Linked DNA regions of Homo sapiens. The protein of the gene in region 1 interacts with the protein of each later gene in a pairwise test. Each region holds a gene or a part of one and is shown in the gene's direction. Other genes may lie near its edges.

Region 1 (3,500 bases):
TAGTGCACTAAGTTTGAAAAGCTGAATGAAGCTTACTATAGTAAAATACCAGTTATTAAAATTGGCTTGCAGAAATTCGTCCAATATAAGTAAACAACCAATAGCAACCAGGTGTAAATAGTTTTATAGGCTAATTCTACCAAACCTTTAAGGAACATATAATTTCTGTGTTCTAGAACTTGGGAAAAGATGGAGAGTTCAAAACTCACACCGTATGCCTAGTATAACCTCAATGCCAAACCAGACGTGGCACGCACAGAAAAATAAAATCAGACCAAAGTCATTTGGAAAAAAAATTCCTATATTTATGATTCAAAACTCAGTTATTTTATAAAATAATAATATTAAGTGGATAAAGAAACGCCAGTTGTACTATCAGCTAAACATTAGAAACCTTCTCATCAGGCCAGGTGAGGTGGCTCATGCCTGTAATCCCAGCACTTTGGGAGGCCAAGGCGGGCGGATCACCTGAGGTTGGGAGTTCAAGACCAGCCTGGCCAACATGGAGAAACCCTGTCTCTACTAAAAATACAAAATTAGCCAGGCATGGTGGCACATGTCTGTAAACCCAGCTACTCAGGAGGCTCAGGCAGGAGAATTGCTTGAACCCGGAAGGCGGAGGTTGCGGTGAGCCGAGATCACGCCATTGCACTGGGCAACAAGAGCGAAACTCCGTCTCAAAAAAAAAAAAAAAAAAAATCAAAATCAGAAAGAAAATGCTTGTTAAAACTTACGTTATTCTCTCTGATTCAGAATACCTAGAGCATGGACTTGAAACTAGGTAGTTTACAAAAAACAAAACAGAAAACATTTGTATTATTCCATTTTATTTTAGAAGTCCTGGCCAATGCACTAAGCAATAAAAAGAATTAAAACGTATAAACATTGAGAAGAAAAAACAAAAATAGTTTTGCAAATGACTTGATTATGTACTTAGAAAATATGAAGGAACTGAAAATTTATTGTAGCCAGTAACAGGAATCAGAGTGTTTGCTGTAAGAGAAACAAAAAATTGTATATATCAGCAATAACCAACAGAAGCTGTAATGACAGCTGGGTACAGTGGCATGCACCTGTAATCCTAGCTTCCCAGGAGGCTGAGGCAGGAGGATTGCTTGGGCCCAGGAGTTCATGGCTGCATTGCGCAGTGATCAAGGCTGTGAATAGCTACTGCTCTCCATCCTCAGCAGCACAGCAAGACTCCATCTCTACAGAAAGAAAAGAAAGGAGGGAAGTGGGGAGGGAGAAAAAAAAGAAAGAAAGAAATTTAATGGTAGGTACCAAGGATGGGGATACCATTGACCAGAGAAAAGGAAGGGAGGGAGGGAGGGGAAAAAAAAAAAAAGAAATTTAATGGTGGGTCCCCAAGGATGGGGATACCATTGACCAGAGAAGGGGTAAAGAAGAAAAAATGATGGACAAAATATGTTTAAATGTTGGCACTATTTGGACTGACACTTTTAACCATTATTTACTCTTTGTTAACTGTTTGGAGTTAGTAAAACAAATACATTCTCTTTTGTTAATTCATACATAGATATTCTGCCTCCATGGTGGCCTCTCTCCATCCATAGACACACTGGATCATATAAGAGCCCTGGATCGTTTACAGGAAGTTCCACATGAGGTAAACTTAATTTAAAAAAGAAGAAGAAAGGAAAAGAAAATATAACCACATTTTGAGGATGATAAAGTATGACTGATAATAATTTGTAACATGTACTTATTTTTCTTGGCCAGGGCCCAATGTGTGATCTGTTATGGTCAGATCCAGATGATCGTGGTGGATGGGGTATTTCACCACGTGGTGCTGGCTACACATTTGGACAAGACATTTCTGAAACCTTTAACCATGCCAATGGTCTCACACTGGTTTCTCGTGCCCACCAGCTTGTAATGGAGGTATGTACTTTCCTGACAGAATGATCTTTATTTCAGATTAGTATATACTTCTGTAATAAGGCATTATGACTTAACTAAGAAACATTCCTCACCATTTATTACCTAGGTGAAAAGAGGAAAAACTTGCTGGTTTTAGCAAGTAGGGAAAGCACTAGTAGACCAGAGCAGAATTATAACTCATTTTTGAAATTGAGACTTAGAAAAAAGTTACAAAAATAGTACCCCATAATTCCCTGTATGCTTCATTCAGATTCCTGACTGTAAATATTTTACTATATTTGCTTTATCATTTTGTGTCTCTCTTCCTCTTCACCCCTCACACTTTCTTCTGAACCATTTGAATATCTGTTGCAGACAGATACTCCTTTACTACCAACTTTCTATGTGTATTTTGTAAAATTAAGGACACACTGTCACATAACCACCGTATAGTTATCACAGTTGGGAAATTTGTGTTCATATAGTACTGTTATTTAATATGAACACTTTATTCAAATTTTGCTAATTGTCTCACTAATGTCTTTAATAGCAAAATTTAATTTTTTGTGCATACTGTATGTGCATAGTCGAATCCAAAGATTAGGTTGTATTCATTCTACTTTGATGTGGAAATCCTCCGATTTTCATTGTTTTCCACATTCTTGACATTTTGGAAGAGTAGGAGCATTTTATCTTACAGAAATATCCCTCAGTTGGGGTTTGCCTGATGTTTTCCTTGCAGTTAGGGATTCAATGTATGCATTTTTGGCAGTCATGACATAGAAAGATGGTGTGTCCTCCTCCGTGCATTGTATCAAGTGGTCCTAAAATCTGCTTGTCTCAATGCTGGTGGTGGCAACTTTAATTGCTTAGTTAAGATGATGTCTGCCAGATTTCTCCACTATAATATTAACTGTTATACAACTACTAAGGGAACATAAACAACATAATCCCTGCAGACCAGTAGGGAGTGGCTTCAAGATGTTTAGAGAAAACTTCGCCAGCCCAGTAGAAACAAGGGAGCATGATAAAAAAAACACAAATTTACATAGTAAAAATAAATTTAATTATATCAGTGATTATAAGAAAGAGACTAAAATTTTAGCCTGAAAGAGACTCTTAGATTGGATAAATAATCAAAATTTAGCTGTTATTTGGGATGTACCTAAAACATAAATGATTGGCTGGACAAAGTGGCTCATGCCTATAATCCCAGCACTTTGGGAGGCCGAGGTGGGAGGATCTCTTGAGTCTTGGAGTTTCAGACCAGCCTGGGCAACATAGTGAGACCTCATCTCTATATAAAAAAAAAAAAAAAGTCAAAAAGTTAGCTGGGCATGGTGGCATATGTCTATTGTCCCAGCTACTCAGGAGGCTGAGGTGAGAGGGTCACTTGAGGCCAGGAGGTTGAGGCTGCAGTGAGCTATGATCGTACCGCTGCACTCCAGCCTGGGCAAAAGGGTGAGACCTTGTCTCAAAAAAACGAGGAAAAAGAAAAAGACACCACAAACTAGAGGTAAGAGTTGGAAAATGGTATATTGGTATATCAAGTAATTAATCAAAATATCAAAAATATAGCTAATGAGCTGGCGTGGTGGCTCGTGCCTCTATTCCCAGCA
Region 2 (3,500 bases), on another chromosome or scaffold:
TGAAGAAAACACACTTAGAAACAAGACTTAGACACAGATTGATTCCCAATGGAAAAGAGAAAAACAATAAAGGTTACTGTAATTCAAAAAGGAAATTTGATAATAAAAAATCCCAAACACCCACACATAAGTGTGAGAAAAACAATACGGTTGTTAAGCCCTGTGGCAGCTTTTGAAAAACTATTAAGTAGTATTTGGAACCAGTAGTGAAGTGCAAATGAAGTAGCACTCTTTTTTTTTTTAACATTTGAGGTTATCTCTTTAGGTGTTACCACAAAAATCTGGAAGATCTGGGCCTTGAATTTGTATTTCCAGACACTAGTGATTCTCTGGTCCTTGTGGGAAAAGTACCACTATGTTTTGTGGAAAGAGAAGCCAATGAACTTCGGAGAGGAAGATCTACTGTGACCAAGAGTATTGTGGAGGTAAGACACAGCTGCAGATGTTAAGGAAATTGCTGAGTGATGGTAACCTCATATTTTGTCTGTAGATTCTCTGAATTCATCTTTTCTTCAACAAGTATTCATGGTATTTACCTGCGGTGTGCCAGGAGCTAGAAATTCAGAGATGAGTTAGCTCAAAATAAGGAAGAAGGGCATTTAAAGAATTATAGTCAGTGAACTTTGGCTAGTAGAGGTATGTGTTTTGCTTTCTTCCCAGTGATAAAGGTAATGAAAACTAAGAGTCTAGAATGCACCAAGATAGTTTTTCAGAAGTGTTATGGAAACACAGAATGACTTGTGTGCCTGGGGAGGTGAAGTCAATGAAAATGTCACAGAAAAGCTGTTTTCTTAAGAAAAGTTTTTACTTTTGAGAGACCAGGTCTCACTCTGTTGCCCAAGCTGGAGTGCAGTGGTGCAATCATAGCTCACTGTAGCCTTGATCTCCTGGGCACAAGCAATCTTCCTGCCTCAGCCTCCCAAGTAACTCGGACTACAGACACGCACCACCATGCCTGGCTAATTTTTTCCTTTTTTTTTTTTGTAGAGATGGGGGCCTCACTATGTTGCCCAGGCTGGTCCTGAACTTCTGGCCTCAAGCAATCCCCTTGCATTGGCTTCCCAAACCCCCGGCACTACAGGCATGAGCCACTGCACACAGCCAGAAAAGTCTTACAGAATAGTGGGAAACTAGGCTGGGCAAGGTGGCTCACACCTGTAATGCCAGCACTTTGGGAGGCCGTGGTGGGTGGTTCACCTGAGGTCGGGAGTTCGAGACCAGCCTGACAAGCATGGAAAAACCCCATCTCTACTAAAAATAGAAAATTAGCCGGGCGTGGTGGTGCATGCCTATAATCCCAGCTACTCAGGAGGCTGAGGCAGGAGAATGGCTTGAACCTGGGAGGCGGAGGTTGCATTGAGCCAAGATTGCACCATTGTACTCCAGCCTGGGCAACAAGAGTGAAACTCTGTCTCAAAAAAAAAAAGAAAAAAAGAATAGTGGGAAAGTGCTGAGTACAGAAGAGGGGAGAAGGGCATTCTAGACAGAGGAATACATATCAGAGACTTGAGATACATCCTATGTTTAGGGAACTATCAATAGATATGGCTCAAATTAAGATCTACAGTTGATCCTTGGATAACTTGGGTCTGAACTGCGCAGGTACACTTAAATGCAGATTTTCTTTCACCTCTGCCATTCCTGAGACAGCAAGACCAACCTTTCCTCTTCTTCCTCCTCCTTAGCCTATTCAATGTGAAAATGATGAGGGTGAAGACCTTTATGATGATTCATTTCCACTTAATGAATAATAAATATATTTTCTGTTTCTTATGATTTTCTTAACATTTTCTTTTTCTTTCTTTCTTTCTTTCTTTCTTTTTTTTTTTTTTTTGCGATGCCCAGGCTGGAGTGCAATGGCACAATCTCAGCTCACTGCAACCTCCACCTCCCGGGTTAAAGCGATTCTCCTACCTCAGCCTCCCAAGTAGCTGGGATTACAGGCGCACACCACCATGCCCCGGCTAATTTTTGTATTTTTAGTAGAGATGGGGTCTCACCATGTTGGCCAAGCTGGTATTGAACTCCTGACCTCAAATGATCCACCTGCCTTGGCCTCCCAAAGTGCTGGGATTACAGGCATGAGCCACTACGCCTGGCCAACATTTTCTTTTCTCTAGCTTACTTAATTGTAAGAATACAGTGTGTAATATATACAACACACAAAATATGTGTTAATCAACTGTTTATATTATTGGTAATGCTTCTGATCAACGTTAGGCTATTGGTAGTTAAGATTTGGGGAAATCAGGCCAGGTGCAGTGGCTCACGCCTGTAATCCCAGCATTTTGGGAGGCCAAGGCGGGCGGATCATTTGAGGTCTGGAGTTCAAGACCAGCCTGGCCAACATGATGAGACCCCGTCTCTACTAAAAATTAAAAAATTAGCCAGGCATGATGGTATGTGCCTGTAATCCCAGCTACTTGGGAGGCTGAGGCATGAGAATTGCTTGAACCCGGAAGGTGGAGGTTGCAGTGATCCAAGATCACTGCACTGCACTCCAGCCTGAGTGACACAGTAAGACTCCGTCTCAAAAAAAAAAAAAAAAAAATTGGGGGGAAATCAGAAGTTATACTTGGATCTTTGACTGGATGGGAGTTGGCTAGATGGGTTGTCAAGGTCAAATCATAAAATAATTTAGCATATTCTACTAAGTAGTTTGCATTTTATCCTATAGGCAGCCAGTGAAAACTTTTAAGCAGGAGAGTAAGGTCCATTTTAGATTGCATTCCAAATATGATTACTTTACATATATGTTTTGGTAAAGGTTTGGAAAGCTACTGCTGGGCTGTGGCATTGGAGGTATTAGAGAGAACTATTACTTTTTATTTTGATTACTTATATGTTTCTTTTTTTATAGCAAATATCATTTATTTTGTCTTTATTGTCTTTTTCCTCTCCTTTCCTGTTTTCTATTATAGTTTTCTGTATTTCTCTTTTTTTTTTTGCTCTACTCGTTTAGAAGTTATATATTCCATTTATATCCTTTTAGAGATTAGCCTTAACTTTTAGCATGCATACTTATCAAAGTTTAAAAGTAATTCACTTCTCTATCCTCTTCCTAACTGTACCAAAATCTTACAAACTGTTCATCTCCCATCACCCTCCTCCCATCTTCCATGTTGCTGTCTAGTACTTTAATTCCACCTTGTTTTTAATTCCCTGGTGGTCATTTATTTTATAGTCAATCTTTATTTAGATTAAAAAAAGTGTTCACCAGAGTCTTTGTTCACCATTGCCTCTTGCATCCTACTTATTCTGTGTTCTTTTGGGTTTTTTTTTTTTTTTTTTTTTTTTTTTTTTACTGAAGTAAATCTCTTACAAGATCTTTTATCCACAAACAGATCTTGAGACAAAAAATACAAAAATATAAAAATAAATAGAAGTTATTTTAGTAAGAGTCCGTGGGCCAGGCATGGTGGCTCATGCCTGTAATCCCAGCACTTTGGGAGGCCAAGGCGGGCAGATCACCTGAGGTCAGGAGTTTTGAGACCAGCCTG
Region 3 (3,500 bases), on another chromosome or scaffold:
CAAACTCAGGGAGCAGGTATTTCCGTTCACCTGCGCCTTCAAGAACCTGAGCTCAAAGCGCTGCAATGACTGGCCAGGGACTAGCAGCGGCTCAGTGGTGGGTGGGCTGGGACTTGGGGTTCTTGATTAAGACATGGGGTCCTGAGGGGAGGGACCAGGAAGGGTGGCCTTGAGAAGGACATCCCTGCCAGCCTCAGGCAGTGGGCTTCTAGGGGGAGACTAGGGCTGAGGAGCCAGCCAGGTGGCGGCTGAGGGTCACCCAAAGATGGCTGAAGGGGAGAGGGCCCGCTGCATCCCCTTGGGCCAGAGCCCACAGGCCAGGCCCTGAGGATCTTAGGCTGCACCAGGCTTGCCGGACACAGGCTCATTGTCTCTAGGGCTTTCTGTCTTGCTGTAACGTCTCTCCAGCCAGCTGCAGCTCCTGCTGACTTATCCCACCCCAGCGCAGGTCATCCAACGGTGACTTATGGCCCCGGCCTCCTGGCTCGATGAGGGTATGTTGCTTCTGTTTCTACCTCTCTGAGTTCTTTTCCTCGGAGCAAGTGACCCTGATGGGATGGCCATGGGTGTACAAGGATACTTGTGTCATGGGTGGCTTTGCAGTTCTGTGTTCCTAAGTGTGCTGTGCAGTGATTCGTGCTGCCCTGGTTCACAGTGGCACGTTTGTGTGTCTGTGGATCTGTAGGTGTGTCTGTGAGTTTTAAAAAATATCTCACATTCTCTGTATTTGCATAGACAGTTTTGCAGGTGTTCTCACGTAGTTTTGTGTCTTTGAACTTTTGTTTACTTAGCTGTATTTAGATATGATTGTATCTGGGTGTGTTTGTGTGTGGTTTAGCATTTACATCAGTTTCTTATGTCCCTATGATCATATATTTAAATTAAAAACATCTGCTATTAACTGAAATCAGAGGCAGAGAATACCATTGCCTGGTCCTGAGGGATTTCTTAATAGTGACAGAAGACTGGAGCCTGAGGAGCCACCTCTTGGGTCCTCCATTGTTTCATTCACTCATCCGTTCATTCATTCAATACACATTACACACCTTCTGCATATGAGGGACGCGCAGGTGTGGGAGCAAGCCCCCGCTCCCTGGGGCTAACCTGAGTGAGGGGTCTCACAGGGAGAGAGGACTGGGTGAGGACATAGCAGTCAGGTATGGGCTGCAGGAGGGCAGGGAGGCGCTGGGGACCCGGTGGAGTTGAGAAGGATGAGGCTATAGAAAGGGGCAGCATGGCAGGGAGGCATTGGCTGGGCATGGGCTGGGACTGGAGAGGCCAGTTTCTGTGGGGGTCTCCTATGGAAGACCAGCTGAGCTGTGCCCAGCAAGTGAGGACCTGCTGGGACCTCAGGGCTGAGAAGGGCCTGATACTGGGCCTTTGGCTGGGGTTTGGGGAGCTGCCCCCACCCCCAAAAGCCTTAGCGCCTAGTGGCGGATCCTGCTCCCGCTCCACTAGCAGCAGATGATACCTGTGGCATGGTCTGCTTCTGACTGCCCGACCTGGGGCGCTGAGGCTGTGAGAGCTGTGCTGGGCTGGTGGGAGGTTCCAGGGGCGGCGATGGGGAGGACCTTGCCTCTTTCTGGCCTGTGGCCTTTCTCCTCCCCCAGCTGCTGTCTGGCCGCCCCACCCCCAAGTCTCTGCCACAACCAAAGCTCCTTTGTTGCCTCCCCCTGCCCCGGGCCTCTCCACCTGCTGCTAGCTCAATCCCCTCTTTGTGTGGTTGGTCTTCAGTTGTCATGGCAGCTGGGCCCAGGCTGAGGCCTGCCCACTGTGAGGCTCTTAACTGAACTGCAGCCTGACCCGGTGCGCGGAGGGCCGGGCCAGGGCCAGGCGTGGGAAGGGGGCCCCTGTGTGTCCTGCTCCCCTCAGAGCCCGAGGGGCAGCAGAGAGGAAAGGTGGTCCGGTAGGGGCCCGGGGGCCCTTGTGCGATAGACAAAGCGGCCTTCCAAGACTTGGTGTGGGCACTGGTGGGAGATGGCGCATCTGGCCCTTGATGCCTGTCTTCCAGCCGGGGCGCTTTGCTGGGCAGCCTGCTCACCTGGCTCCTGGGTGTCTCCAGGTGGCTGAGGACATGTCAGGATGGTAGGTTAGGAGGGGCCCGCCATGCACAGAGCAGAGTGAAAGGCAGAATAGGAGAGAAGCTTAGGGTGGGGACGTGTGTGTCTGGCCAGCCTGGAACATGACACATGGAGGGCTTTCCTGGATTTTGTCTGTAGGACACCTGCTGTGCCATTTCCCAGACATAGCCCACCTGAGCACACAGGTAGAGGCGGGTCCCCAAAGACTTGGCCTCCCCTCATTCCTGTCCTCTGTGTTTCCCCCTTTGAATTTCTCACTTCTTCCTCTTGGGTCCTCTTCCTTCTGTCTCCATTTCTGTTCTTACGTAAGCCACAGGCTGCTTCCCCTCGAGCCCTGGTATGGCCCGAGACAGAGGCACCGAGGCTTGAGGGAGGAGCTGCTCTGGGAGGTCCCGGACAGTGGAAGGCCTGCTACTACCTGGAGTGGCTGTTAGGTCCTAATACCTCTTGGGAGGCAGGGTGGGTGAAGTAGGACTGTCTTTGATTTGCCTTGGGGGTCTCGCTCTGTGGAGACCCAGGCCCATCCTTCTGTCCTCCTGAATTTGTGGCCTGGGCTCTGCCCTCCTCGGTCTGAGTTCCCCTTACCAAGGTGGCTTCTCTGTCCACTAGCCCCTCTGCGCCTCTTCAGGTGGATGTTAAGTCCAGTTGGTGAGAGGTTTCCCAAGATGTGGCATGCAGAAGCTCACAGAGTGGCCCCAAGGGAGGAGGGTGGCGAGGGAGGGAGGAGCCCCCAGCACCCATCAGAGCCCCACCAGGGGCTCCTCCCGCCCCCTTCCCCACTGCTCGCCTTTTCTCTGCACCACAAGCAGGTTCTGTAAGAAACCATGGTAGGCATGCGTACAGGCCCCTGTTGGGGAAATAGAATTGAAAACAAAATCTCTTGCCAACCCAGAAAAGCTCTTTGCAAAAGTAGAAGAGAAAAACAGCTTTTAAAAGATTGAATGTGCATGAAACCAGAATGTGGTGCGCACCATGGACAATCCCCCGAGCAACTGCAAAGACGGGAGCTCTGAGCCTGCAATACCCCAAGCGACTGCAAAGACGGGAGCTCTGAGCCTGCAATACCCCGAGTGACTGCAAAGACGGGAGCTCTGAGCCTGCAATACCCCGAATGACTGCAAAGACGGGAGCTCTGAGCCTGCAATCCCTGAGTAACTGCAAAGACGGAAGCTCTCAGCCTGCATGTAGCCGGCAGGTGCAGCCCGTTACAGACATGTTCTCAGGATAAACAGCAACCAGCCCTCCAGCAAGAGGACTGGACATTACCATTTGTCACACGCAGGCAGGTCGTCCTAAATTCACCTCATAATTGGAGTGACCATCTGTGTTAGCTAATTGCCTTTACCCACAGGAAAAATAAAGTTCTTATATTTTTATGACAGGAGATAGTTTTGTGATTTGGAGCCAGGCACCTGCTGA
Region 4 (3,500 bases), about 13 Mb from region 1:
GCTATTTGGTCAAAAGGTCAAATTATTTTGCATAGATAATAGCAAATATTTGGATGCATAATCTCCAAAATCAGATAATCTCATGTTCCTGAGTAACATAGATACACAAGATGTGATAGCTTAGAAGGATCAGACAAGTAGCTCTGTTTGTCTAAATTCCATAGGATTTACAGATGGTTATTGTCATTTCTGGTAGCTTGAATTCCTGTTACATGATACACAGAATACCAAATTAGACCTTAATCCAGAGGTTCATTAATTTCACAGGCATTAAAGTATTTATGGGGCACAGATTTCTTGGGCATGATAATGGTGGGCTTTTCTTTCTTTCTTTCTTTCTTTTTTTGAGAGAGAGTCTTGCTCTGTCACCCAGACTGCAGTGCAGTGGTACAATCATAGCTCATCATAAACTCGGACTTGTGGGCTCAAGTCTCGGTCTCAGTCTCAGTCTCCAGGCATTGGAGTGCAGTGGTGTGATCTCGGCTCACTGTAACCTCCGCCTCCCGGGTTCAAGCAGTTCTTGTGCCTCAGCCTCCCGAGTGGTAGCTGGGATTACAGGCATGCGCCACCATGCCTGGCTAATTTTGTATTTTTAGTAGAGATGGGGTTTCGCCATGTTGCCCAGGCTGGTCTCAAACTTCTGACCTCAACTGATCCACCTGCGTTGGCCTCCCAAAATGCTGGGATTACAGGCATGAGCCACCACACCTGGCCTACAGTCCCCTATTCATTCTTGTTGAGTGGACACAACTGTGTGGCTGCAAGGGGCTTAGCTGAGATTTTTAGAGTCCGGTGGCCCACCACAGGCAGAACAGTGGGGGCACTCTTCCCTGGATGCAGGCAATAAGGGTGCCTTACTTATAGAGAAGGCAAAAATGACAACAAAAGCAACTTAAAGTCAGTTAGCTTTTTATTATCACTATTTGCCAGCAACTCTCAACAATGTTGGTGATAAAATACTCCTTCCCCAGAGACATTTTGTTGGTGAAATTCTAAATCGTTGCTACAGTTACAGTTGAGTTTTGATAATTTATATGTAAGCTTCAGATTAGTATACACATAATATTTACTCTTTAATAATAAGCATTTTATTCTACCTAGACATCGCCAGCCCCTGACAAATGTAATGTCTGCTTTACCATTTGTTTTGAGAGAAAGTTCACTGTGGTTCAAAATCTTGGCTGGGCAGAGTGGCTCACACCTATAATTGCAGCACTTTGGGAGGCCTACGTGGGAGGGTTGCTTGAGGCCAGGAGTTTGAGACCAGCTTGGGCAACATAGCAAGGCCCCATCTTTAAAAAAAAAAAATTAGCTCAGCATGGTCTCACATATGTGTAGGCCTAGCTACTCAGGAGGCTGAGGCAGGAGGATCACTTGAGCCCAGGAGTTCAAGGCTACAGTGAGCTAGGATCATGCCATTGCATTCCAGCCTGGGTGACAGAGTGAGATTCCGTTTCTAACGTTAAACACAAAATATTTTGCGTGCACTTTCAGCACAGTTTGTGTCCCCAGTCTCTGTGGAGCTACAGATTTCTGTGTTTAAACAGTAGAATCAAAATGAATGGTGACAACATATAGACTGCAAAGTAAACAAACAGCCTTGAATGGCTTCAGTTCTGCTGTTTTGTGTGACTGCTTGGAGACTATGAGACGGTGTGAACTACAGGCAGTAATATTTTTGTTTTCTAAGGGCAAATTTTAGCTCATACATGAACTGTTTTGCTGAATTTGAATAATATCTTTGGAGCTGAAATATTTTTTAATGTTTTAAAATTAATCAAAAGATGATAATTACATGACTTTTACTGAAAACAATATTGACATATGAGGAGGGGAGGATTAAAAAGTTATCTTCTCTAGAGTTACCTAAAAGCTATGAGGGCTGGGCATGGTGGCTCACTCCTGTAATCCCAGCACTTTGGGAGGCCAAGGCAGGTGGATCACCTGAGGTCAGGACTTCGAGACCAGCCTGACCAACGTGCTGAGACCCTGTCTCCATGTCTCTACTAAAAATACAAAAATGAGTTGGGTGTGGCGGCGGGCACCTGTAATCTCAGCTACTCAGGGTGCTCAGGCAAGAGAATCACTTGAACCTGGGAGGTGGAGGTTGCAGTGAGCTGAGATTATGCCACTGCCCTCCAACCTGGGCAATAGAGTAAGAATCTGTCTCAAAAAAAAAAAAAAGTTATTGGCCTCAAATATTCCAAAAATGTCATTACTACAGCGCATTTCTCTCTCCTTACGTTTTGCAGTTACTGGCCAACACCTTCCCAAGAACAAGCGTCCAAAAGAACCAGGAGAGAATAGAATCAAACCTACCAACAAGAAGGTGAAGCCCAAAATTCCTAAAATGAAGGACAGGGACTCAGCCAATTCAGCACCAAAGACGCAGTCTATCATGATGCAAGTGCTGGATAAAGGTCGCTTCCAGAAACCCGCCGCTACCCTGAGTCTGCTGGCGGGGCAAACTGTAGAGCTTCGATGTAAAGGGAGTAGAATTGGGTGGAGCTACCCTGCGTATCTGGACACCTTTAAGGATTCTCGCCTCAGGTAAGCATTTTTTTTTAAAACTGTGTAGGGTTGAGGATTTGTAATAGTTAACAAAATTCCTTCTTAACTATTATTACACATTGTTTCTGACATGTTCCATTTTACCCTAATAGATCATAAAAATAGAAGCTCAAAGGGCAAAAGTCACAGATTTTATTTCTTTACCCAGTTAATAACAATTGCAGGCCGGGTGCGGTGGCTCATGCCTGTAATCCCAGCACTTTGGGAGGCCGAGGTGGGCGGATCACGAGGTCAGGAGATCGAGGCTATCCTGGCTAACCCGGTGAAATCCCGTCTCTATTAAAAATACAGAAAATTAGCTGGGCGTGGTGGCAGGTGCCTGTAGTCCCAGCTACTCAGGAGGCTGAGGCAGGAGAATGGTGCGAACCTGGGAGGTGGAGCTTGCATTGAGCCGAGATAGTGCCAGTGCACTCCATCCAGCCTGGGTGACAGAGAGCGAGACTCCATCTCAAAAAAAAAAAAAAAAAAAATTGCAAATCCTACCAACATTTGCTGAAAGAGTGAAATTTTACAGGAAACCATGTGACAAAACCATATGACAATTTTCTATGAAAATGTATGATGTGTGGAATTTTATGGGAAACCAAAATGTTATAGAAAACTATTATGCATAGAGATGGATGTTTAAAAATTCATATTGTGTGGCCAGGTGCAGTGGCTCATGCCTGTAATCCCAGCCCTTTGGGAGGCCAAAGCAGGCAGATCACTTGAGGCCAGGAGTTGGAGATTAGCCTGGCCAACATGGTGAAACCCCGTCTCTACAAGAAATATAAATTAGCCAGATGTGGTAGCATGCACCTGCAATTCCAGTTACTCAGGCAGAGCTGAGGCAGAAGAGTCGCTTGAACCCGGGATGCAGAGGTTACAGTGAGCCGAGTTCGTACCACCGCACTCCAGCCTGGGTGACAGAGTGAAACTCCGTCTCAAAA
Region 5 (3,500 bases), on another chromosome or scaffold:
CCCATTCTCTTCCTAAAGCAAGAGGTGGGACTGAGTTGTCCTTATCTCCCTCAACTGGCAGCTTCTCCTCCCAGCCTCTCCTCCCTGGAGCGGCCTTATTATCCAGGTGCCTGAGTTGTTATTCCAAAGATAAGTGTCCAGTTTGGGGCAATAGGTCATTGAAATGGAACTCCTGTGTGACAGGAAGTGGGGGCTTTGGAAAGTCTGAGCCTGAGGAGGATGGAGTTGCCAGGCTGTGACCCTTCAATGAATCCAGGGAGGCTGTTGGGGCTTCTTTGAAGGATGGGTGAGAGAGTCATCTAGGGGAGGGTATTTGCTCACAGGGATGAGGTCCCTGGGGCTCTTAAGCTACTGGGCTTCTGGTGGAGTGACAGCCTGGGGTGTCCTGGCTTCTGCCTTCCCTGCCTTCTCACCTGCCCCTTCAGACTCCGATCCACTCCCGGATCAGTCTTCTCCAAATCCATCCCCTTGCTCTTCCCCTGGATCTTCGAATGGCTTGTTCCCTTCCTTCATTTAGATCACCTCCTCAGGGAAACCCTCTTGAACTCATATCTAAAAATACCTCTTTCTACCCTGGTCACTCTCTAATTTCTTATCCTGCCCCCCTACGTTTAATAGCCACCATCACTACTGGAACCAAATTGTATGTTCACGTGCTTAATTTCTGTCTCCCACCCTGGAATCTAAAGCATTTGTTGCTTCTTGGGTGGTTATGTGTGTGCGGTGCTTAGAATACAGCTGGGTGCATAGTGAGGGCTGGAGCAATGTTTTGGGAAGGATGACTGACTGAAAAAAGGACCATCCTCTGCAGTGTGGTCTCCAAATGCTCTCGTGCTGGGCTTTTTCAGGCTTCAGAGTCTGAGAGTGGATTAGGAGAGGGAAACACTTGAAGTTTGTTCGTGCATTTGTTTATTCTCTTGTTCGTTCAACAACAACTCACTGAGAGACTCTTGCTGTGGGTCCTGGGGAGCCAGAGAGCAATCATTAGTGGTATGGCAGGAAGAAGGTCTTGCCAAACCCTGAATTCAAAGAAGAGGAGGGGTAGGGTAGAGGATGTAAGAAATTGAGAAGGAGCCGTGAGGTAATGGGGCAGGAGGAGGAAGAAGGTGGGTTCTCTTTCCAGGACAGAGCCTTCTGAGGATGCCAGAGCTGGGTGCAGGCTGTTGGCAAGAGAGTCAGGGTGTATGAAGAGCCGAGGAGTGGGCTGGGCAGGGCAGGCCTCTGCCTTGTTTGGAGGTGGGGAGTCTGGCCAGCCCAATGGTGCTCCTTCCCAGATGTTGGCCTGTTTCTCCCCAGGTGCAGGAGTGCCTGCAGCAGTTCAAGGTGACAAGGGCACAGCTACAGCAGATCCAAGCCAGCCTCTTGGGTTCCATGGAGCAGGCGCTGAGGGGACAGGCCAGCCCTGCCCCTGCGGTCCGGATGCTGCCTACATACGTGGGGTCCACCCCACATGGCACTGGTGGGTATCATAGATTGAGATGCGTGGCCAGGCCTGGAAGAGGGTACTGATCTAGGGGAGGGAAACGTTCCTTATTCCTGTCCCCCATCTCTATGGCCCCTTGACCAGACTTTGCAGGCCTTAGGAATTTGGGAAGTGGGCAGAGGGCTCTGGTCTTGCCAGCTGCATGGCTTTCTGTGACCTGCTTGCCCTCCAGAGCAAGGAGACTTCGTGGTGCTGGAGCTGGGGGCCACAGGGGCCTCACTGCGTGTTTTGTGGGTGACTCTAACTGGCATTGAGGGGCATAGGGTGGAGCCCAGAAGCCAGGAGTTTGTGATCCCCCAAGAGGTGATGCTGGGTGCTGGCCAGCAGGTAAGCACTCACTGCCCAGCCTCTGGGGTCTGGGGGCCTGGCTGGGTGGCTAGGGCTCAGATGGGCAAGGCTGAGCCCCCCCACTTCTCCTGCAGCTCTTTGACTTTGCTGCCCACTGCCTGTCTGAGTTCCTGGATGCGCAGCCTGTGAACAAACAGGGTCTGCAGCTTGGCTTCAGCTTCTCTTTCCCTTGTCACCAGACGGGCTTGGACAGGGTGAGGTGGAGTGGACATGGGACGCTGGGTAGAGGGTGGCTGCAGCCCCATGAAGGCCGTCAGAGGAGTAACCCAGCTTCTCTACCTCCAGAGCACCCTCATTTCCTGGACCAAAGGTTTTAGGTGCAGTGGTGTGGAAGGCCAGGATGTGGTCCAGCTGCTGAGAGATGCCATTCGGAGGCAGGGGGTGAGTGGAGGGAGGGGTGACAGGAGGGCTGCCCATGTTGGCCTGGGCCTGGCACACATGCGTTGGGTCTGGGCTTCTGAGAGAGTTGCTTTCCTCTTCTCTTCATGTCCTCCATCCAGTTTAACCTCCATCCAGTTTAACCTATACATGGTACATGTTGCTACCATTCCCATTGTATAGGTTAAAAAACACTGAGGCTAAGAAAGGTCAAATAAACATTCAGGACCTGGGGCAAAAAAACATGAATAGACTTTGACCTCCTCCTCAAGGTTTTCACAGTCTAGATGGGGAAGCATTCTAATAAAAGATTGTCCGTGTCAAGGAGGAGTGCGTGGACAACTCTGGGAGCACTACGGAGGAAGCACTGGCTCTTTGATCAGGGGCTTGAAGGAGGAGTTTGCCTCCCTTCAAGTCAGGCTGGGGCTGGGGCGGATGATCTAGTCTCAGAGAAGGCCACACACAAGAGTCTGGATGCTGGACAAAGGCTGATCCGTCTGGGCTAACCTCTTGTGGTGAGAAGCCAGTGCTGGGAGGAACAGGCTTGGGGAGCCAGGCAGGATGACAGTGAGGCTGGCAAGGCGCAGAGTTCAAGGAGGTGCTCAGTCTCAGGAAACTCATCCTGGTCCTGGGAGATGGTGAGGGTGGACGTCACTGTGACCTGGGGGCGCAAGTTGGGGGTTAGGGAGGAGCTGAGGGTGGGATTGGAGGAAAAGTTCCTATAAGGTGGGAGCCCAGAGCATCTGTGGCACAAATGTGTGTGGCATGCAGACATGTGTTTCATGGACTCTATGTATCTCCTTCAAAGCCAGGGCCCCAGCCCTGCCCATCCCCTGGATTCCCTCCTCTGGCCACTCAGGCCAGCCTTGACCTCTGCCCTCTTCATCATCTAGGCCTACAACATCGACGTGGTTGCTGTGGTGAACGACACAGTGGGCACCATGATGGGCTGTGAGCCGGGGGTCAGGCCGTGTGAGGTTGGGCTAGTTGTAGGTGAGCCATGGACCATTTGTGATGACAGGTGGAGGGTGTGCTGCCTGGCTAGCAGGCCTTGACAGGGTTGTCTCTGCCAGACACGGGCACCAACGCGTGTTACATGGAGGAGGCACGGCATGTGGCAGTGCTGGACGAAGACCGGGGCCGCGTCTGCGTCAGCGTCGAGTGGGGCTCCTTCAGCGATGATGGGGCGCTGGGACCAGTGCTGACCACCTTCGACCATACCCTGGACCATGAGTCCCTGAATCCTGGTGCTCAGAGGTGACCTGGCAGGGGGCCCTGACCTTTGGTTCCA
Region 6 (3,500 bases), on another chromosome or scaffold:
AACTGGCATCTCATTCCCCTTTTCTAAGACAGGAAGGACGGTCAGAGATGATTCCAACATGAGGACTTTGCTAGTTGCAGTGTCTGACTCCTCCCATTCTCATAGCAGTTTTGCACAGTAGTTTTGGTTTGTGTGTATGTTTTAGGCAATGTGACAAAGCAGTTTTCCTCCTGCCTCCTTGAGAAATTTAATCCTGACAGGTTCTTTAAGAAATCAGCTTGATGTGGGCTGATTTTAAAAGAATAAATGAAAAAAAAAAGCTGGTGACTGATAGCTGTTTTATTGGTCTTGTAGTGTTTTGGTTTTGTTTTATCTTCACTTTCTTGTTTCCTGGTGAATAATAACTGGGTTTATTATCTCTCATGGCTAATCCTTAAGCCTGATTCCTTACCTGTTCCATCCAGAGTACAAAGTATATTTTGACTCCTCTTTAAACTGCTTGTTAGATTCTCATATGAGTGACTTTAAATATTTTTGTTTTGCTTCAGGACAACGGGAAAACCAAACGATTATGTTTTGTTTGCAGACAGTTTACGAAAACAGCAAATTGGTTTATGGTTAGACCGTGACTTTGAGCTGACTTCAAGTTGGGCCCCACGATAAAGATAACCATGGAATACCCAAGCTTTCCTAAGCAGAGAGGATCCTGGCTTCCAAATGAGCAATTTTGGTCAGCAAAGGGGTTATTTAGCTCCTAAAAGTAATTTTTGCTTGAGGTTGGGGCTGAGGCAGAGTGGCTGAACAACCGTAGGCCTGGGTGTAGCCAGAGGATCATCAGTAATTACTTCTCAGTTCATTCACTTCTTGGGCTAGGGAATTATTTTGAGTGCAGGATAAGAGGCAATTTTCTGTGTGTTTCCCTTCTAATATAATGCCACTGATGATATTATAATTAATAGGTAACATTATGCATGACAGGCACTGTGTGCTAAGGGTTTTAATGCATTATTTCATTTGGCCATTTCAGAAATACCAAGAGGTAGGTGCTGTTCTTGTTTATTTGTTTGTTTTTTTTTTTGATAGGGAGTCCCACTCTGTCACCCAGGCTGGAGTGCAATGGTGCAATCTTGGCTCACCGCAACCTCCACCTCCTGGGTTCAAGTGATTCTCTTACCTCAGCCTCCCGAGTAGCTGGGATTACAGGCGTATGCCGCCATACCTGGCTACTTTTTGTATTTTTAGTAGAGATGGGGTTTCACCATGTTGGCCAGGCTGGTCTTGAACTCCTGACCGTAGGTGATCTGCCTGCCTTGGCCTCACAAAGTGCAGGGATTATAGGCGTGAGCCACTGTGCCCGGCCTTTTTTTTTTTTTGAGATGAAGTCTAGCTCTGTTGCCAGGCTGGAGTACGGTGGTGTGATCTTGGTTCACTGCAACCTCCGCCTCCTGGGTTCCAGGGATTCTCCTGCCTCAGCCTCCCAAGTACCTGGGATTACAGGCACGTGCCGCCATGCCCAGTTAATTTTTGGATTTTTATTAGAGACAGGGTTTCAGCATGTTGGCCAGGATGGTCTTGATCTCCTGACCTCATGATCTGCCCACCTCGGCCTCCCAAAGTGTTGGGATTACAGGCGTGAGCCACCGTGCCCGGCCTGTTTTTGTTTTTAAGAGACAGGGTCTTGCTTTGTCACCCAGGCTGGAGTGCAGTGGTACAAACGTAATTCACTGCAATCTCAACCTCCTGGGCTCAAGGGCTCCTCTCGTTTTAGCCTCTCAAGTATCTGGGACTAAAGGCGTGTGCTACCATTCCTGGCTAATTTTTTTTTTTAATAGAGATGGTGTCTCGCTATGTTGCCCAGTCTGGTCTTGAACCTCTGGGCTCAAGTGATCTGCCCACCTTGGCTCCCCAAAGTGTTGGGATTACAGGCATGAACCACTGCACCCAGCCATGTTTTTATTTTATCTGAGAGAAAACTGAGGTTCAGAACTTAACTGTATACTTCTGGAATCTTCACAGAGAAATAAAAAAAAAGAAAAATAATTTACTATAGATTCATTAACTACTACGTGGCGGAGCCAGGGCTGATGTCTCCACTGCCCCAATTTACCATCCTGTGCTGTAAAAAGTCATGGAGAAGGTTTTCTGTGTGCAGCTAAGAGAGGAGGTGGCAGACATTTATTTATTTATTTATTTATTTATTTATTTATTTATTTATTTATTGAGACGAAGTCTCACTCTGTTGCCTGGGCTGGAGTGCTGTGGCACGATCTCGGCTCACTGCAACCTCCATCTCCCGGGTTCAAGCGATTCTCCTGCCTCAGCCTGCTGAGTAGCTGGGATTACAGACGTGCGCTACCATGCGCAGCTAATTTTTGTATTTTTAGTAGAGATGAGGTTTCGCCATGTTGACCAGGCTGGTCTTGAACTCCCAACCTCAGGTGATCCGCCCACCTCGGCCTCCCAAAGTGCTGGGATTACAGGCCTGAGCCACCGCACCTGGCCCAGACATTTTTTAGACAGTCTTGCTGTGTTGCCCAGGCTGGACTCGAACTCCTGGGTCCAGTTGACATCCCTCTTCATCCTTCCAAGTAGCCAGGACTGCAGGGACATGCTACCTTTATTTTGGGTTCTTTGTGTCCTAAACCCTGTATGATCTGCTCCATTTGTAACACAGAGAACCCAGGTGCCCTCTTTCCTGCTTATATTTCTTTGGGGCCTCAGTTTACAAGGCAAGTCTGCCTTTGTGGAGATAGACTGGGGTCTGGGATGGAAAGACCTGGGTTTGGGTCTTTGCTCTGCCACTGCATAAACTCAGCAAGTCACTTAACCTCTGTGACTTCTCATTTCCTTATCTGGAAAATGGGACTAACACTTCCTGCTTCACTGGGTGGTTGAGAGGATCAAATAAGATAGAAAAGGAATTGCTACGTAACACCTAAAGCAAGGCCCAACTGCTAGTTGTGGCTGCTGCTGTTACTTGGAGAGAAGAAATGAGGCCCCAGATCATTAGTTCATATGACAATTTTTTCTTTTTTTAAGACGGAGTCTCACTCTGTTGCTTAGGCTGGAGTGCAGTGGCGTGATCTCCACTTACTGCAACCTCCGCCTCCCGGGTTCAAGCAATTCTACTGCCTTAGTCTCCTGAGTAGCTGGGACTACAGGCACGCTCCGTCATGTCTGGCTAGTTTTTGTATTTTAGTTGAGACGGGGTTTCACCACATTGGCCAGGCTGGTCTTTAACTCCTGACCTCAGGTGATCCACCTGCCTTGGCCTCCCAAAGTGCTGGGATTACAGTCTGAGCCACCACGCCTGGCCCATATGACAAATATTTATGAAGTGTTTTCCACAGAGTAGTATGGAATAACTCTGGGTGTGTGCAAGATGAACTGAGCTCAGTCACAATACTTTTTTTTCCCCTAATGTTAAGAATTATTGGCTGGGCAGGGTGACTCATTCCTTTAATCTCAGCACTTTGGAAGGCAGAGGTGGGAGGATCAGGTGAGCCCAGGAGTTTGAGACCAGCCTGGATGACAAAGTGAGACCTTGTCTATACAAAAAA
Region 7 (3,986 bases), on another chromosome or scaffold:
AAGGCTCTGTGGGGACCCGGGCATAAGCCTTCCCTCAGTTCCTTCAGTGCCACTCAGGCCTGGCTGCGAAGATACAGATGGTATATGCGAATTACATATAAGTAACTATATGCAAAATTATTTTTCCCTGGTGTGTCATTGTGCCAGCGTGTTTGGATTAGAAGTGATTTCCAGGAATCCTTCCCTGCGTCTTCTAGCTTCTGGGGGCTCTTGGCCTTTCTGGACTTTCATGGATCATGACCACATCACTCTAATTTCTGCCTCTGTGTTCCAGCACCTCACCCCCTGTGTGTTGTGTCTTCTCTTCTCTCTGCTGTGAGGACAATTGTCATTGGATTTGGGGCCTATCCAGATATACCAAGATGATCTCATCTCAAATTCTTTTACTTCATTACATCTGCAAAGAGCCTTTTTCCAAATAAGATCAAGTTCACAGGATCTAGGGATTTCTATATGGACCTATCTTTCTTGGGGGCCAACATAACCCCCTACATGGTATAGGTGAAATAAGATTATTTGCAATTGATGAATCCAGGTGATGAATACTTTCAGATTTGTTATATTATGGGCAATTTGAGTGACGCAAAGAGGATAGCATATGCAAATAGGGTCTCTGGATTTGTCAGATAAAATACAGGATACCCACCTAAATGTGAATTTCAGATAAACAATAAATAATATTTCAGTATAATCTGGTTTCATACCGTGTTTGGAACATAGCTATAACTAAAAAATTGTTGATTGTTTGCCTGAAATTCACATTTACATGGATGTCCTATATTTTATTTGGCAACCCAGTAAGAAAACGGTGGCATCAGCTTGCCCTTCACAGACATCCTCTCCCAGCTATGCTCACAATAGAGATTTTTCAGTTGCCCTAGTCTTTGCACCCAACTCATGAAAAAAAGCATCTTTAAAAAGCCAGTTTCTGCTGACTTGCAAAAAGAGCAAAATCTCGGTGAAATGTATTGTGTAAACTTTGATTGCCAACCTTGAAAAGGAACACATTAACCAGTGTCTTCTGATAAGCAGATCACTTGCCTCATGTCTTAGAATCCAGTAGGTGGCCCCTTGGCCATGAAATGTGTGGGAGTGGCTTTTCCCTAACTTGACTCTTCTTTCAGTGGGAGAGAACTATTGAGAGGAACAAAGAGCTTATAAATACATTAGGACCTGGAATTCAGTTGTCGAGCCAGGACGGTGACAGCGTTTAACAAAGTAAGTACTGATCTTATAAATTTCTCTACATTGCCTCACACCCTCCTCTCTAGCCTCCTAGAAAAATATGCTAATATGTGTCCTTAGCACAAGGAAAAGTCTGTTTTTACTCATATTGTGCCGTCTTGGTGTGCTTGGGTGACAGTTCAAGAATTGTTTATTTCTTTTCTGTTGGATACATCTTTACAGAATTGTAAAAATGAAGAATTTAGAAAACCAGGGCTTCAGCATTTAATGGTATGGGAAACAATGACATGAAGAGAAAAAAGAAATGGTAGCATTTTAAACAATCTGAGAATAATCAGTGCTGGAAGAAGTGGCAATGTATGCAAAAATTTATTTCTCTGTGTAAGTAGTCAACACACAATTGTAAATTGTGACACTGTAATTCTATATTGGCTGTGAAAATACAAAACTCAGGTTTAGTATAATTAGAATAAATTAGTTTGAATGTCAGGAGAACTAGATTCTAGTTGAGCCTTTGCCACTAATTAGCTCAAAGACAAGTCATATTCTGTCTCTGGAGTTCTACCAACTCATGGCCAATATAGAGGATAGCTAAGAAAGAGGCTCCGACTGTTGCTGCCCTTTAAACTGTGTAATTCTTTGAATGGAGATCTGTCCTGCTCACTCTAGGATGTTTCTAGGCATCCCTGGCCTCTACCTATCTGATTTGTAACCCCCTTTCCCTCCCCGCAGATATGACAACCCAAAATGTCTCTAGACCTTGCTCAATGTCCTCTGGAGCAGAGGAGCAAAATCCCCCTGGTTGAGAACCATGGGACTACATGACCTCATGGGGCTAAGCAAGGCTGTGTTACTGATGTGCCCCACTGCTTGGACATTCACTGAAAATTTCCTGTTAATCCAGGTGGACTGATTAGTGAATATCAATATCTTCTGTACAGGAGCTAAAAAGGAAAGAGAGAGAGAAACAGAGAGCCATCATATGACAGATTTGATATAAGTCTGGATTCATATAAAATCTTATTCCTACTCGAGTTCTATGAACAAAATATAGAGAACCAGAGAAATGGATACAAGACAGATAATAGATGATGAAGAGACAGATTACAAAGAGATAGATACATAGAACGATTGATAGATAAAATAATACATACATGGATGGGTAGACAGAGATTATAAATAGATACATATACATAGATTGTTGGTCAGTAAAATAATTGATGGATAGATAGATCAAAGAAAGAGGATCCATGGGCTACTCAATATGTCCAGAGACTCACCCATCTTCCAAGCACTGGGACAAGAGCAAACACCCATTGCTGTGTTCCTACTATGAATTTTTTGTACATTATCTCATTTAACTTTCTCAACAACCCTCAAAAGTAGAAATAACTATCTCTATTCTAAGAAGAGAAAATTGAGGCTCAGAGATTAAACAACCTACTGCATTTATGAATCTCATAATGGAAGGAGTCATAGTTTATCTCATTCTCCCTTCTCTCTGATAAGAAACAGTGTCATTGGGACCACCTCAGAGATGTAAATGTAACTCCTTTAATTTACTCCTGGAATTATGAGAGCTTATATTCCTTTCAAAACAAGCCCATTTTTTAATTGATGTAAGTTAATTATTGATGTAAAGTAATTATACTAGTCCTCAACTCACTCTGATTTTTAGGTTGTCAAATCAGAGAAAGTCACAGTTTTATCAATTTTTTCTTCCAAGCAAGCCCCTGAAAAGTTGCTAACAGGAGGAACTCAGGAATTAGATGTTCCCCTCTCGTCCTCTCCTTCCAACATTTATTTGGCTAATATATATTTAATAGGAAAATACAAAACAACTTCTCAGACAGGAGCTGAGAGCCAGGTTATGAGGTGGAGTGGAAAAGCTCTGGACCTGCAATCAGAAGTTAAGGCTGACCCAACACTCACCAAGTGTGCAGCATGAGACAGGTGCTTTAGCTCTCTGAAACTCAGTGTGCCCATCTTTAATTTGGATAATAGGAGCCATTTCCCAGGGTTGTTGCGGAAGGTAAACACACTCCCTAGATATTGACTATGAATGAGGAGCATGTGTGTGTGACCCATGGCAAATCCTTGAGCTCTCTGGTTCTCATTTTCTGTTGACCCAACAAAGCTCAATGGTAACCTATGTCTCAGTCTTAGCCTGACCCTTGGAAACCTCACATTGAGAAAGTGATATGCTAGTTATCAGCAGGAGTGTTGTGATAAAATATTATGTAAGATAAAATTTCACTTCCTTTTGAAACATGATCCTCAATCAATGGCTAAGAGAGTTTAGTTTGGGGATTGGAATTACAACACTGTGAACTCTAGTCGATAACAATTAAACAAGCATACCCCATGCTTTCATCTGAACTTCACTCTCCCTTTCACTCTGTCAAATTATGCTATTTCCATTTCCCAAGTTACTTTAAATTGCTCCTGGAGTTATCATAGAAAGTACAATGTCAAAATATCTCATGACAAAACAGGTGAGTTGATTCAGTATGATTTCAAAGAATTCTTTACTTTCCAAAGGTTAATTATTGACTCCCATATTTTAAAATGAGACATTTAAAAGATTTTGATGCCTAATTTTAGTCATACATACCTTTTTAGAAATACATTAGTTGAGGCCGGGTGCAGTGGCTCACTCCTGTAATCCCAGCACTTCGGGAGGCTGAGGCGAGTGGATCACCTGAGGTCAGGCGTTCCAGACCAGACTGTCCAACATGCTGAAACCCTGTCTCCACTAAAAATACAAAATTATCCGGGTGTGGTGGCACATGCCTGTAATC

The links.
Region 2: the proteins of PPP2CB (region 1) and MLH3 interact in a two-hybrid assay, tested with the Homo sapiens proteins (one large-scale study listed by BioGRID and IntAct).
Region 3: the proteins of PPP2CB (region 1) and ZNF775 interact in a two-hybrid assay, tested with the Homo sapiens proteins (one large-scale study listed by BioGRID and IntAct).
Region 4: the proteins of PPP2CB (region 1) and PDGFRL interact in a two-hybrid assay, tested with the Homo sapiens proteins (one large-scale study listed by BioGRID and IntAct).
Region 5: the proteins of PPP2CB (region 1) and HK3 interact in a two-hybrid assay, tested with the Homo sapiens proteins (one large-scale study listed by BioGRID and IntAct).
Region 6: the proteins of PPP2CB (region 1) and PTPRJ interact in a two-hybrid assay, tested with the Homo sapiens proteins (one large-scale study listed by BioGRID and IntAct).
Region 7: the proteins of PPP2CB (region 1) and GSTA1 interact in a two-hybrid assay, tested with the Homo sapiens proteins (one large-scale study listed by BioGRID and IntAct).

What each region holds. Positions count from the first base shown.
Region 1 is NC_000008.11:30,792,319-30,795,818, reverse strand, and holds part of PPP2CB (serine/threonine-protein phosphatase 2A catalytic subunit beta isoform), read left to right. Parts: intron 1-1,537; coding exon 1,538-1,627; intron 1,628-1,740; coding exon 1,741-1,902; intron 1,903-3,500.
Region 2 is NC_000014.9:75,027,468-75,030,967, reverse strand, and holds part of MLH3 (DNA mismatch repair protein Mlh3), read left to right. Parts: intron 1-252; coding exon of another isoform or gene 253-265; coding exon 266-425; exon of another isoform or gene 426-426; intron 427-3,500. UniProt on the Homo sapiens protein: Probably involved in the repair of mismatches in DNA.
Region 3 is NC_000007.14:150,382,330-150,385,829, forward strand, and holds part of ZNF775 (zinc finger protein 775), read left to right. Parts: exon of another isoform or gene 1-494; intron 495-1,471; exon of another isoform or gene 1,472-1,662; intron 1,663-3,500. UniProt on the Homo sapiens protein: May be involved in transcriptional regulation.
Region 4 is NC_000008.11:17,587,216-17,590,715, forward strand, and holds part of PDGFRL (platelet-derived growth factor receptor-like protein precursor), read left to right. Parts: intron 1-2,252; coding exon 2,253-2,550; intron 2,551-3,500.
Region 5 is NC_000005.10:176,889,347-176,892,846, reverse strand, and holds part of HK3 (hexokinase-3), read left to right. Parts: intron 1-1,296; coding exon 1,297-1,459; intron 1,460-1,655; coding exon 1,656-1,810; intron 1,811-1,905; coding exon 1,906-2,025; intron 2,026-2,116; coding exon 2,117-2,212; intron 2,213-3,102; coding exon 3,103-3,202; intron 3,203-3,282; coding exon 3,283-3,466; intron 3,467-3,500. UniProt on the Homo sapiens protein: Catalyzes the phosphorylation of hexose, such as D-glucose and D-fructose, to hexose 6-phosphate (D-glucose 6-phosphate and D-fructose 6-phosphate, respectively).
Region 6 is NC_000011.10:47,983,559-47,987,058, forward strand, and holds part of PTPRJ (receptor-type tyrosine-protein phosphatase eta isoform 1 precursor), read left to right. Parts: intron 1-3,500. UniProt on the Homo sapiens protein: Tyrosine phosphatase which dephosphorylates or contributes to the dephosphorylation of CTNND1, FLT3, PDGFRB, MET, KDR, LYN, SRC, MAPK1, MAPK3, EGFR, TJP1, OCLN, PIK3R1 and PIK3R2. Plays a role in cell adhesion, migration, proliferation and differentiation.
Region 7 is NC_000006.12:52,801,017-52,805,002, reverse strand, and holds the start of GSTA1 (glutathione S-transferase A1), read left to right. Parts: upstream 1-1,186; 5' UTR 1,187-1,218; intron 1,219-3,986. UniProt on the Homo sapiens protein: Glutathione S-transferase that catalyzes the nucleophilic attack of the sulfur atom of glutathione on the electrophilic groups of a wide range of exogenous and endogenous compounds.